Regions from separate parts of the Homo sapiens genome. Here all the other regions are linked to region 2. Evidence: fine-mapped expression QTL. A gene starts in region 2. Each other region holds a variant in brackets. All regions are shown on one strand. Distances are from middle to middle.

Region 1 (4,240 bases), 200 kb before region 2:
TGTGCCGTGGTGACCCCCTGAGCTCCCCTATAAAATGTTGGCCTCTATTTACATATAGAGAATGATTTAATCAAGGTACGTGTTGTTATATTCAGCCTCATTAAACAAGGAAGTTTCAATGTTATATGAATTTTTTTATGCTCTGGTGTCTTCAGCAAAGGATATATCTTGTTGGCAGACTCTGAATTTTTTTCAGATGTCAAAAACACTTGAAGCTTTAAAGTCTAATGGGTTTCTTAATCCAACTGCAGCCATTCAGCCTCAGTGAAAAATCCATTCCTTCATATTCAGTTGCTCCTAAATGTCTTTCCCTTTAAATTTATTGACTGACTTTCCTGTCTTTCTGTCTCATGTCGGAAGTCAGTAGGCACATGTAAAAAATAATCAAAACACACCGACTCCCTAGTGAAGAATCAATGGTGTCACTGCTGTCATATATCTAGACTAGGCATAATGAACTGCAGCATTTCATCTTTGCATATAAGATAATTTGGGCATCAATCGTATTCTGACAGATTTATGTCACTCAAAGGACAGTTCTACTTTTCCTTTTTTTTTTTATCGCTTCATTGAAGCCTGCTTAATTTCTCTCAGTCAACTGGTGCCCCCAAGACATTATTTTTATTCTTAAATGTCCAATATCTGCCTGATGTCTGTGTTTGTGCACATTGGGGCCACAGTAAATAGGCTAAAAGGCAGTCCCACCTGCTTAAAACACACGCAGGCTTGTCAGTTGGCCTTTTCAAAAGTGCACATCAGTGTCATCTGTGACTTCAGAGATGGGTGATATATATTTAAAAACAGGTCCTTAGTTTGGAAAGGCATGCAGTTATGGGCAAGGAAAAATAAAATGGGGGCAAATTATAAAAAATAAAATAAAGTCTCTGAAGTGATAGTGAAGACAGATCGCACCCGACTGTACTTACTTCCCCCTTGCTTTGCGATTGCTTTACATGATGAAGGTTACATGTAGTGCCATTGCCCATCCATGCCCATATTCATGCCCATTCCACTCATAGGTCCTAGAAAGGAGATAAAATCCAAGAAGAGGCCGGAAAATCAGCAATAATTGATGGTGAAAAAATAGAAGGAAACTCAGATTCCTTTTCACTTATTGCCTTGGTTTAAAAAGAAAAAAGAAAAAGGATGTGTATGGGGCAGAGTATAATGGTACTGTGGTAAAATCTTTACTTTTTCAAAGAGGAATTTTTTCCCCCACCCAATGTAAAGAAAGCAGGCAGAGCAGGCAGCAGGCAAATGTTAAACCCACCATGACAGTGGGATAGTAGAGTGGATGGAGAGGCTGGTGGAGCAGGTGGCACTTCCCAGGGAAGCCCAGAGGCGGGATGAGCCAACCTACCTGCAGGCCGGATCCCCATGTGTTGCTGACCATCCAACACAAAGCTCCCCATGGGCTGACCCTCTGGACTATATGCTGCTCCTTGGCTCACTGAAGGATCAAGAAGAAAACCTGATTGTGGTCATTCGAGGACACAGAGGAGAAAGAAGAAAAGATATACCAAACAATCAGCAATTGTTCCCGCTGCAGCACTGAAACGTTATAGCAACAATGTGGTTGGCACTCTACAAATGGGGGTGTGGTTTGTCTGAGTGTCTTGATGACTGAGTGAAGGTGTGTGAGTAGCTTTAAAAATGTTCTGGAAGAAAGACTTCACTGGCCAGTTTCCCAGGGGGTTCGTCCTCTGCAGCCCTTGCTTTTTTACTTATCTCTTGATTAGGGGGACGAAGGCTGGAGAAGTTAGGGGTACCCCATATACAA[A/G]TATTGCAATGTACCATTTGGTTGGGATTCTCTGAGGCTGCCATCTCTGGTGGCTTAATACAAAATGTTCATATTTTACACAAACATTTTAAACCTGAATACAATTTCACAAGGTTAAATAGACTCAATTAAAAGCTTGCCTTTTTATTCACACCAAGGAAATATAAACTTAGTAAATATAATATTTCCATTGTTTTATGTTCTTCTCCCTAGCCTCCAATAGTGGGAACATATTTTGGCGTTATTGGGGAAATTTTGCCAAAGGATGACTAATTTTCACAAATCCTTTAAAGCGAGGCCACAGGTAAAATCTCCATCAAGTTTAACACCGTTGTTAGTGGCAGCAGTCATCACCCCAAGGAAAACTGTTTTTCCCTATAAGCCTTATTGCAGGAGACCACAAACCCTCAGTAAACTGAGGAAATGTCTGTTTCAAAATAAAACGACTTGGAGTATACCAGGAGGGTTCTGATAGTACCATACAAAAACTGTTTTAGAGAAATTGAGAGAATTCTGAGAAAAGCTCACATGTATTTTAGCAGCATGGATGTGAAGCATTTTATACAAAGGTAATATTCTTTAATAAAAAATAATGGTGGCAATGCAGCAAGTCAGGCTTTAATAGGATATTATGAATAGCCAAAGCAAATGAATGGATACAATAAGTTTAACAGCAGATGCTACAGAAAGGAAAGCCTAGCATACACCAAGGAGCTGTGGGTAACAGAAAAATGAGAGTGTGCTAATGATTGGATGCAGACAAGCAAGGGGTAATGCCAGAGCTCACAAACACGCTGCTTGTGGCATTAATACCTGTGCCCAATTACCAATTCAGAAAGAAAATAAAAAGCAGTGTCAGTAGAGTCAGGGTGGGAAATCTCCAATTAGCACCACTTACTGAAGTTGCTTCCTTGAGTGGGATTCTGGGGACATTAAAAAAAAAAATCCAGAATGCCTGGTGGAAGCACTTATTTATCAGATGAGGAAACTACTGGAGTATAACTTGATGAGGATTTGTGCCTGTGGGACATAAATATAGATACTACTTGGAACTTGCCTGCTCGATTTGACTGGTCAATCATGGGCTGTACTATTCTTCTTCTGGCATTAATAAACCTGAAAGAGAACAGAGAAGTCCAGTCATCATACTCCGTTTCTGTACTCTGCGAACACCTTTGCATGAATGCTGAGGAGCACAAAATACAGTCAAATCTCTTCTGAAAATTATCTTTTCAATTTAAAGGTGATTTTCCCTTTCAGCGTTCAAAAATAGTTGACTGGGTAATCTCCGTCGTCACTGCGTAGTCAACTCCAAAACAACTTGCTAGAAGAGCTCAGGGACGGAATAAAGTTCTCCATGAGAAAGCTTCTATTAACTTCAAATTGTGCTTCTGCTTCTTGCACAAGTAGGAATCTGGTTAAAGTTCACAGGCTGGAAGACTTTCCCCCTTTCCCTAGACTCCCCGTGATAGGGAGACCCAGCTTCCCCTTGCAGCTGGTCATAAATGGAGACCAGGCTCTAGCACTCGGCTTTCACAAGGTATTGTTAGGTCAGCAAAGCCATCAATTAGGCTGTCTGAAGTTTTATCACCAACACAGCAGTAATAAGTGCTGGCCAGAAAGACTTCTGCTCTTCGGCAACTCCTGCAGTTTAAGCCTGTAAAGTTAGGGGTCATTCAGAGGTCAGTGCCAGCTGGGGGCAGCCTTTCCAGCCTAAGCTGGGACACCCAGGGCAGAGGATAAGGTAACTGCCAACCATAAACCCAGCCACCTTTCAACCCACTAGAAAGACAGAGCCTCAGGTACACATGTTTGATATTAGAGCTCAAGAAACGTTTGCAAATCAGGTGGTGGCTGAATCGCAGGAATGCAAAGGAGAAGCAGTTATTTCATCTAAGAAGCCTGGATCTAATTTTGTTGGAAATCCAAAAATAAGTGCCTACTTCATGTTACTTTAATGTTTAATAATGCCCATCAAATATTCATGTACAAACAGAGTAAGATGATAAGAAATCTCCTTTATTTCTCCAAATTTAATAAAAACAAAACAATTTTCTACCATTTGTGAGTTACCCTTGTCCCTGTGCACTTAACGACGTGTATTCCCCACACATTTGAGCTCATGCACACGATTCACTGACCACGCATTTCGGAGGAGCAGGGAGCATCCAGCTAGCTTCTCCCTAAAAATATACCCATTGATAACATCTGTCAATATTTCCAGTTTCAGATCTTAAGCACAGGGGGACTTCATGATTAATGAGTCCACCTGGGGCCACAGGCAGGAACTGAAAACTCACTCTTTGAAATTAGCCAGAAAAATTCAGTGTGTGCTGGCAGCTCTGTGTTCCGAGGAAGCTGAAGTCCCTTTGGAGGAGGACAGTCAGGCCCCACTCGGTCGGGCCTCCTGTGAGCACTCTGGTGGGAATACAATTAAGCTGAGGAATAATAGCTGGGAGA
Region 2 (4,240 bases):
ACATGGAAGCGGGAACCCCTACTCCGTCCATCCCGCCGTAATGGGGCAGCTCATCGTACTGTCAGAACCCGGGAAGGGGGAGGGGGCGCAGGAGGTGAGGGAGAACAGAGGAGGGGGGTGGAAAGGGAAAAAGAGCAGGGAGAAGAGGGCGAACAGAAAAGAGAGGAAGGGATAAAGATGAGAGAGAGGGAGGGAGGTAAGAGAGAAGAGAGGAGGAGGAGGAAAAGGAGGAGAGGGGGAGAGAGAGAGAGAGAGAGAGAGAGAGAGAGAGAGAGAGAGAGAGAAAATAAAAATAAAAACAAAGTCAGAAAGGAGAAAAGTACCGAGCACAAGTTGAGCACACAGAAACCAAACCAGCCAAAACAACGGAGTTAAAAGTTGTGAGGAAAAAATGTTATTAAATTTAAAAATGAAAAAGCATGAACCAAGAGCAACGTTTAGAGAAGGAAGAGGAGGCGGCGAGGCCGGGGATTTGAGGGGGCGCCGGGAGGCCCCGCTCCCGCCGGAGGCAACAGAACCGTAGCGAGCCAACGGAGGGAGAAGTGGAGTTAGTGTGAGGAGGAAGCCCCGGATCCCACCCCTAACCCCCCTTCGCCTCCTCTGAGGATCCAATAAATCAAAAGGCGAAATGAAACAAAATAAAGAGAAGAAAAACGCTAATAATCAGCACGAGAACGCCGAGGACTAGGAAAGACTAGGGCCAGTGCCTCCCCGGGGGCAGGGAGCGGAGGGTGGGGGGGCGAATAACGTGAAAGTTACCAGAAACATTATTTAGCAGCGGATTCCCTGCGTCCTTGTCAATTTCAGAGACAAAACAAGCAGCCCAGGCTAGTAGTCTAGGCGGCGGCGCAGCGGCTGCGGCAGCGCGGCCCCAGCGGCGGCCCCGGCGGCGGCTCCTACGCAGCCCGTGCCCGCCCCGAGCCGCGCGAGCCACGGCGGCAGCGGCGCAGCAGCGGCAGCAGGAGAACCGGGGGAATCGCGCTGCTGGGGTAAAAGCTGGAGCGAGGCGAAAGCGTGTAACGATTGCACACGCACACACACACACCACTCACACGCACTCGCCGCCCGCCCGCTCGCACAGCGCTGGAACACGCGCGCCCAGACACGCACACACGCACGCACACACACTCGCACACACGCAGAGGCACGGGAGGGAAAGAAGCCGATGAATAATTTTGCTATTTTTTAAAATACTGGCCGCCATCATCAAGCAGCGAGCAGCAGCAGAAGCGTTGAAGGGAGAGGAGGCATCGGGACAGGCCCCTCTTAGGAGAGGATTTATATCTAGGTAAGTGTTGGAGATTTAAACCTACCCTTTGCGCCATCAGTCTGCGCTCCAATAAACTCCTGGATGTGTCGTATATTTAATATCCCAGTCCGGATAAGAAAGTGATCTAGGCTGAAGATTCCTTTTTTTTTTTTCCAAACCAAAGAGACTTCTCCCAATTCTCCAATATGCTATTTTTTAGGGGGGAAAAAAAGCCCAGTCTAGACAACGAAGAATTTTTTTTTCTGTGATATTTCTTCTTTTTCTCTTTTTTCCTCTTCTTCCTCCTCCTCCTGATCTTCCTCCTCCTCCTCCACCTCCTCCTCCTCCCCCCTCCCCTCCTCCTCCTCTTCGGTCCTCCTTTCCCCCTCTTTCTCTTCTCTTCCCCTCAGTTGGAAAAAAAAAGAAAGAAAAGAAAAAGAAGAAAAAGAAGAAAAAAATTGTCAAGCCCCCGAACTGAAGGTTACGAGCGGCCCGTCAGCAGCCCACATGTAACCGAACTGTCGTGTTTCATGGCTTTTTGCCACTCCAGCTGTCAATCAAAGCCCGGAATGTCAAGGTAGTGAATGAATGATGGTTGATGATGATGAAGAGGAGGAATCTTTCAGACCCGTTTTTTTCTTCCAGTAAAACTCCGCGAGGGGTTTCTGCTTCTTGAATTTTTTCCTCCCCCCTCCCCCCTTTTTTAGCTTTGCCCCCGCGGTATCTATAATACGATCCTCTCTCTTTAAAGTATTGTTCAAAGAAAGCAGTGAGAAAAATCAAGAAAAAAAAATGAATAGTTTGCAAAAATTGGACTTCCTCCCCCCCTTTCCTGGTAGGTATTTTGTCTCTCCCTCTCTCTCTTTCTCGCTCGCTCGCTCGCTCTCACTCGCGCTCGCTCTCTCGCGCTCGCTCTCTCTCGCTCTCTTTCTCTCTCTGGGAGATGAGTGAGTGTCAGTAGGTGTTGGCAGGTTGGCTGCTGCCTGGCTTATTGAAGAGCCTCAGTTTGGCGGCGCGGGTCGGCGGCGGGAGAACGAAATGACGGAACCCGGAAGTCGTGGTGGCCATAGCCCGTCGTACGGCGGAGACACATCCCGGGAGTGGGGAGCGGGAGCGAGGAGGAGCGCGCCGCGCCGAGCCTCTGATATGCAACGAGTGCGATCGGACAGCCCCGGCTGGGGGGGTGGGGGAGGCGGGGGGGCGGGAGGGGGAGGGGAGGCTCGAGCCGGGCGGACCCGAGCAAATCAGCAAGCCTGCTCCTCCACGGGGATGGGGGACGGCGGGGGGGAGGAAAAGGAGAGTGTGTCTGTGTGTGTGAGTGTGTGTGTATGTGTGTGCGTGCGCGCGTGTGTGTTGCGCGCGCGCGCGCGCGAACAGGGAGAGAGGGAGAGGGGGAGAGAGAAGAGGACAGGGAGAGCGCAGAGAGGAAAACTGCAGAAAACCACAGGGAAAGTACGGTACCGCCTCAGATCTTTTCATTTAAAAAAAAAAAAAAACTTACTTCTAGTTCATTTTCCCATCACTCCCGGCTCCTGCCTAACTGGGTCTTGCCGGGGACGTTTGGCATGGCGCTCTAGCTTTTGTTCCTTTTAATTCCGCGGCCTCCCTCTCCTCTGCCCGCCGATTACAGCACCCCGAAGGCTTCCTGCTAACGTCCAAGGGCAGCAAGCTCTGCAGACGGTACCACTGCCGGGCTAAATTTTTTATTAAGTGGCACTTTCTTTTCTGCGCAGATCCAGCAACCTTGTCAATACTCATTTTTTTCCAGGACCAGAAGAGACCAGCTTAACTCAGAGCACACTCCCTCCAAGCGGTGCGGACAAGGGGCCACCCCGAGAGTCTTTGGGGGCCGCGGCGGAATCGGGAGGGAGGAAGTGAGGAGGCAGTCATCTGGGTCCGATGTAGCCAAAGGCGTGTGTGTGTGTGTGTGTGTGTGTGTGTGTGTGTGTGTGTGCGCGCGCGCGCCCGCGCGCCCGTGCGCGCGCGCGACTAGTGTGCGTCTCCAAAGTGGATCTCACTCAGAGCTGGGAAGCACAGGAGGAAAAGACGGAGAGAGTGGGGGAGAAAGAAGTTGCCGGGCGAGGAGGAGTGGCCGGCGCTCACAGCCCAGCTTTGTTGTGGTCGCCCGAGGCGCAGCGGCGGGCCGCGGTAACGCCTGCTAATGGCTGTGTTAATTACACAGGGGCGATTTCGCGGGGTCAGGGAGATGGGGCCAGCTCCGAAAGAACTTTTCCAAAAAGGAAAAGGAAACGAAGGGAACTACCCCACACCGTTTGGGTGGAAACTAGTTGTGGCCGGTGCCCTGTCCTCCCTGGCCCGAGCTGCACCAGGCTTCACCTCTGCGCGGCTGGTTTCCCGGCGGCCGCGCGTCAATCACTACGAGCCCGGAGTTGGGGGCGGAGCCACGGTCACCCCGCGCAAGCCTTGCCGCCCAGCAGCCCCCATGCCCCTCGGCCCCTTGTGGCGCGGCCGGGCGGACAGGCGCTGGAAGCGCGTCCTCTCCCCAACTTCTCGCTCTCGCCCTCCCAGTCCCTGGCCCAGAGAGTGGAAAGCGGACTGTTGTTCTCCAACAGCCGCATCCCTCCCCAACTTTGAACCCATTCTGAGAAGTGGAGAGTAGTGTCTTCCGCGAGCCGCGTCTAACCGACTTTCCCGCGGAGGGAGGGTGGGATGGGGGAGGTTGATTAGAGAGAATAAAGTACTCTGTGTGTGTGTTGTGTGTGAGAGAGAGAGAGAGAGAGCGAGAGAGAGCGGGGAGGAGGGCGGGTGGGAGGGCTCTTTTTTTTGGCCCCCGTTCCATGTTCCCTGCTTCACTGTAAGCTTTCGAGCAACAGAAACTAGGCTAAGATTGCAGCCTGCAGAGACTCCAAGCGGAGTCGGAGAAATTTGGCCTCGTTTTAATAGGGCTGAGGAATGAACTCCGGAGGTCAATAAAGCCCTCCAAAAATGATGAATGATTGAGCACCTGTGATGATGATAGTGATTACCAGA
Region 3 (4,240 bases), 870 kb before region 2:
CTCCACCATTCTGAGTTCATCCTTTCCTTTGGTATCCAAAAATATTAAGTCACATCCACCTCTGGAAAACTGTAAGAAATCTAGTCTCCATACAAGTATTAATTGAGTGTCTCTAGGGGAGAAATTTTTTATTACTATTCATATTAAATATCTTCTCCTAGTTTTCTCCTTGGCAATCTTTGTTCATTTCATTATTGCCTCTATATGTTTCTGTAGCTTCTAATTCTAAATCAAGGATTTAGTTTTCCATAAATGTAATTAAAGATTGAATTTATTTATTCATCATTTATCCATTCAAAAATATTGTCTTGGAACTCTGCTGGTACAAGGGGTACAACAGTGAACAAGACAGGCAGTCCCTAACCTCCTGGAGTTTATAGTCCATTGAAAAGATAGATATTAAACAAAGAATTACATGATAATGTAAATAATTAATGACAGTTGTGATACTTGCCAAAAAATATGTAGTGTTCTGTGAACGCTTGCAATGAAGGAGACTTAATCTTGATCTGAAGACCCAAGAAGCCTTCCCTGAAAAACTAGTAAGCTGCAAGTTTAAGTATGAACTAAAGTTACCCAGGGAAAGGAGGAATGTTATAGTCATAGGCAACTGCACATGTGAAGGTTATGAAATGGGAAAAGATGTTTAAGGACTTAAGGAGGCCAGTATGGATACAGGTTATTGAATAAAAGGAACAGTGGAATTGACCGGAGCAGGAGTCAGGAGCAGATCATGGAATAACTCATTTGCCTGACTAAGGGTTTTGGTCTGTGTCCTAAAAAAATGAGGAGCAACTATGTTTATTTAGGTTGGGGTGTGACATCATCTAAAAGATCACTCAGTGATATTTTACAACAGCCAGCACTGTGAGTGGATTGATTTAATTGTACATACTCAACTGGAGGAAACATTCTTGGAATTTTGCTGTCGAACATTTTGTAGACAGTCTTTTGATTGGCTGGCAGAACCAAAACACCTTTGCTCTTTCAGAGGAATCTTTATGTGAGAGGCAGAGCTCAGTGTCCTGTTGTTAGAGAAGCCTGTTGAAAGGGAGGACTCTATACTGACCAAGTGACACGACAGTTTACTATATAATCATCAGGAATTATTTCAATGGATCCAAGAGTTCAATGACGAACTTACAGTTTCAGTTCTGACATAGAAATAGCATGGCAGTCTTAATTCTGTCCTTAAAACAAAAAAGAGCTGGACAAATGAAAATGAATTATTTCTCATATCTATCAGAGAACTTAGGTCTCCATGTAAACAGCTGCAACAGAATCTGGAGGCATATCCAGGCAATCGCAGCTGAGATCTGCTTACCCAGAACAGAAGCTGCTCGTGTCATTAACTGGTAGAAACAGTTAAATGGTAATTTTAACCTAGGAATAGAGGCTTAGTTTGAGGCTACTGTAAGAGTGAGAAAATTCTGGGAGCCACAGGTTTAAGGGTGCTCCCATGTTTTTGTCAGCTTTATCTCCAGGGAGTCTAAAAGGTTTTTATGGTAAAGATCTGAGAAAGATGCCCTCCTGAATCTGGCAGAAAGAGAAGAGTAATCATCGTGAAATATGCCCACAGCTTTGTTATAACCAAGACCTGTATTCCAGAGGAAAAGACTTTGCTGGAGCATTCTCTCAGCTAGAAGGAAAGAATTTGTAGACAGTTTGTAGTTAATCGCCCTAAACCTCAGTTTTGTTATTTGTAAAAAATGGAAATAATGATGCCTACTCAATTAAGCTTTTAATGATAAGTAAATGGGATAATATATAAGAACACACCTAATACAATGTAGTCACTTGAGAGGTTTCCTGGATTTAAGTCTCTAATTAAACCATGTGTTATATTAAAAGCACAGTTATATTATTAAAAGCACAGTTGTGAGGTACATGCTTGTGGCACAAGTGAGTGAAGCGGGATGCTCATCAAAAGCAGCTGTCAAAGGCCATCTTCAAACATGACATCCTGAGATGACTTCAGAAGATTCAAGATCACCACAAACCTGGCCCAGGGAACCATTCCACCATCAGTGGTTTTCAGGCATTTTCTCATGGTTCATTTCAACCATTGGGAAACTTGAAGAGAGAAGATTAGTTAGTT[GATA/G]ATAATAATAATTTTTACTGCTACTTTCTCTCTCTTCAAATTTCTATCTCACCTCAGCAGGAGGCAGAAAACTACTCAACTGTGGTCATGTATCTGAAGGATATAAAAAGGAAATACTGCCACCAAGAAAGAAGTAGGAGGCAGGGGGTAAAAGTTGTACCATCAAAAAAAAAAAATAAAATAGAATTAAAAAAAGATTGTGAAGGTCAGCCTTAAGACACAAGCCAACAAAAAGACTGAGTGTTAATTGGAATAGGATGCTCCCTCTCCCCCACAATTCACAACCACAATAGGGCTTCAGTAAAATAACAGTGGTTTACAGCTGAGCAAACTGCCAGACACACACTATCTCTGAAGAGGAATACTTAGGGAAGCCCTAAGAGGGAAGAGATAAACAAGGATACCAGGAGAATTTGAAGCCTCTAGCACCTACAGCTACAGCAAACATTAACACAACACAAGTCCTAGTCACATTAACATAACTCCTACAAGGGCTATTTACATTAGTCCCCATTACCTGAGTCCACGTGCCTGGCTTCCAATAAAAATTTGCAAAGTCTGTTAAAAGGTAAGAGAAAACACAGTCTGAAGAGAAAAGGCAAGCACCAGAGTCAGACTCAGACATGATACTGATATTAGGATAATCAGAGAAGGAATTTAAAATACAACAATTAATATATTAAGGGCTCTAATGGAAACTGTAGACAATATGCAAGAACAGATAAGTAAAGTAAGAAGAAATAAGGAAACTTTAAGAAATAATTGAAAGGAAATTCTAGAAACAAAAAACACTATAATAGAAATAAAGAAAGCTTTCGATGAGTTCATCAATAAAATTGACAGCTTAGAAAAGAATTAGCGAACTTAAAAGTAAGTAGATATTTCCCAAACTGAAATTCAAAGAGAAAAAATAATTAAAAATAGTGTACATACATCCAAGAATTGTGGAACAACTTAATAAGTTATAATATGCATAATTGGAATATATGAAATGAAAGAGCATGGAGCAGAATAAATATTTGAAGTAATAGTGGCTTAGAACTTTTCAAAATCAATCAATGACAGACAGAAACCATAGATCCAGGAAGTTCAGACAACACCAAACAGGAAATATACCCAATACACACACACATATGCATGCACACATAAGTGCACACACACTCACACACCTGGCCATGTAATATTCTAATTTCAGAAAGCCAAAGACAAAGAGAAAATCATGAAAAAAGTTGAGGATCAGAGAAAAGAAACACCTTACCTAGAGGAACAAGAATAACAATTATAGCAGACTTGCACAACATACAAAAGTCGATTACTGTCCTATGTAACAGCAATAAATAATTAAAATTTTAATTTTTAAAATTACCATTTACAACAGCACCAAAAATTAAAGTATTCAGGTATAAATCTAATAAAATACGGCTCTGCATTCAGACTACTTCAAAATGCTGAAGAAAGAAATCAAAGAATACCTAAATACATGGAGAGATATTCCATGTTCAGAGACTGGGATAATCTTAGGTTGTTAAGACATTGGTTCTTCCCAACTTTATTCATAGATTTAATGCAATCCTAAACAAAATCCCAGCAAGGTGCTTTGTGGCTATCAACAAGCCAATTCTAAAGTTTATATGGAAAGGCAAAAGACTGAGAATAGCCAACACAATACTAACAAAGTTGGAGGACTGACATCCCAAAACTTCAAGATTTACTATAAAGCTACAGTAATCCACAGAGTGTGGTACTGATGAAAGAATAGACTCAATGGAACAGAATAGGAAGCCTGTAAACAGGCCCACACAAATTTAGTCAACTGATCATCGACAAAAGAGCAAAGGCAGTTCAATGGAGAAAGGATAGTCTTTACAAGAAATGGTGCTAGAAAACTGGAGGTTTATGTGCAAAAATAAAATGAATTTAGACATAGATTTTACATCTTTTGCAAAAATTAATGTGAAATACATTATAAACCTAAATGTAAAACACAAAATATACAAATTCTAAAAGAAAACATAGGGGAAAATCTAGGTGACCTTGGGTTTGGTGATGAATTTTTAGATACAACACCAAAAGTATGATTCATGAAAGGAAAAATGGTCAGTTGGACTTTATTAAAATTAGATACCTCTGCTGTGTGAA

Direction of the effects. Alleles are on the strand shown, and positions count from the first base shown. SD is a standard deviation of normalised expression in the study named. Not every link is listed here.
For the expression in stomach of the gene that starts at base 2,408 in region 2, allele G in region 3 goes with a higher level than allele GATA (small effect, 0.15 SD a copy in GTEx).

Evidence for each region. PIP is the estimated chance that this variant, and not a neighbour inherited with it, causes the effect.
Region 1: its variant is the best candidate, but not a certain one, in a credible set for the expression of MEIS2 in stomach (GTEx, PIP 0.88).
Region 3: its variant is the best candidate, but not a certain one, in a credible set for the expression of MEIS2 in stomach (GTEx, PIP 0.82).

The regions. Positions count from the first base shown.
Region 1 is chr15:36,893,791-36,898,030 of GRCh38, forward strand. MEIS2 (Meis homeobox 2) reads right to left here. Exons shown (of 12, transcript NM_170675.5): 10 at 2,838-2,896; 11 at 1,361-1,471. Among named protein-coding and RNA genes, the nearest start is that of MIR8063, 77 kb to the right of the region's middle. RefSeq lists an enhancer at 4,013-4,240. The variant A/G (reference allele first, on the strand shown) is at 1,781.
Region 2 is chr15:37,098,142-37,102,381 of GRCh38, forward strand. It overlaps MEIS2 (Meis homeobox 2), which reads right to left and starts at 2,408. Exons shown (of 12, transcript NM_170675.5): 1 at 1,314-2,408; 2 at 1-58. The coding sequence starts at 1,325. LOC124903465 (a long non-coding RNA gene) reads left to right here and starts at 1,107. Exons shown (of 2, transcript XR_007064581.1): 1 at 1,107-1,288; 2 at 1,660-4,240. RefSeq lists silencers at 780-979, 1,130-1,189, 3,639-3,778 and enhancers at 2,249-2,408, 2,659-2,938.
Region 3 is chr15:36,230,145-36,234,384 of GRCh38, forward strand. No RefSeq gene overlaps it. Among named protein-coding and RNA genes, the nearest start is that of LINC02853, 190 kb to the left of the region's middle. The variant GATA/G (reference allele first, on the strand shown) is at 2,099.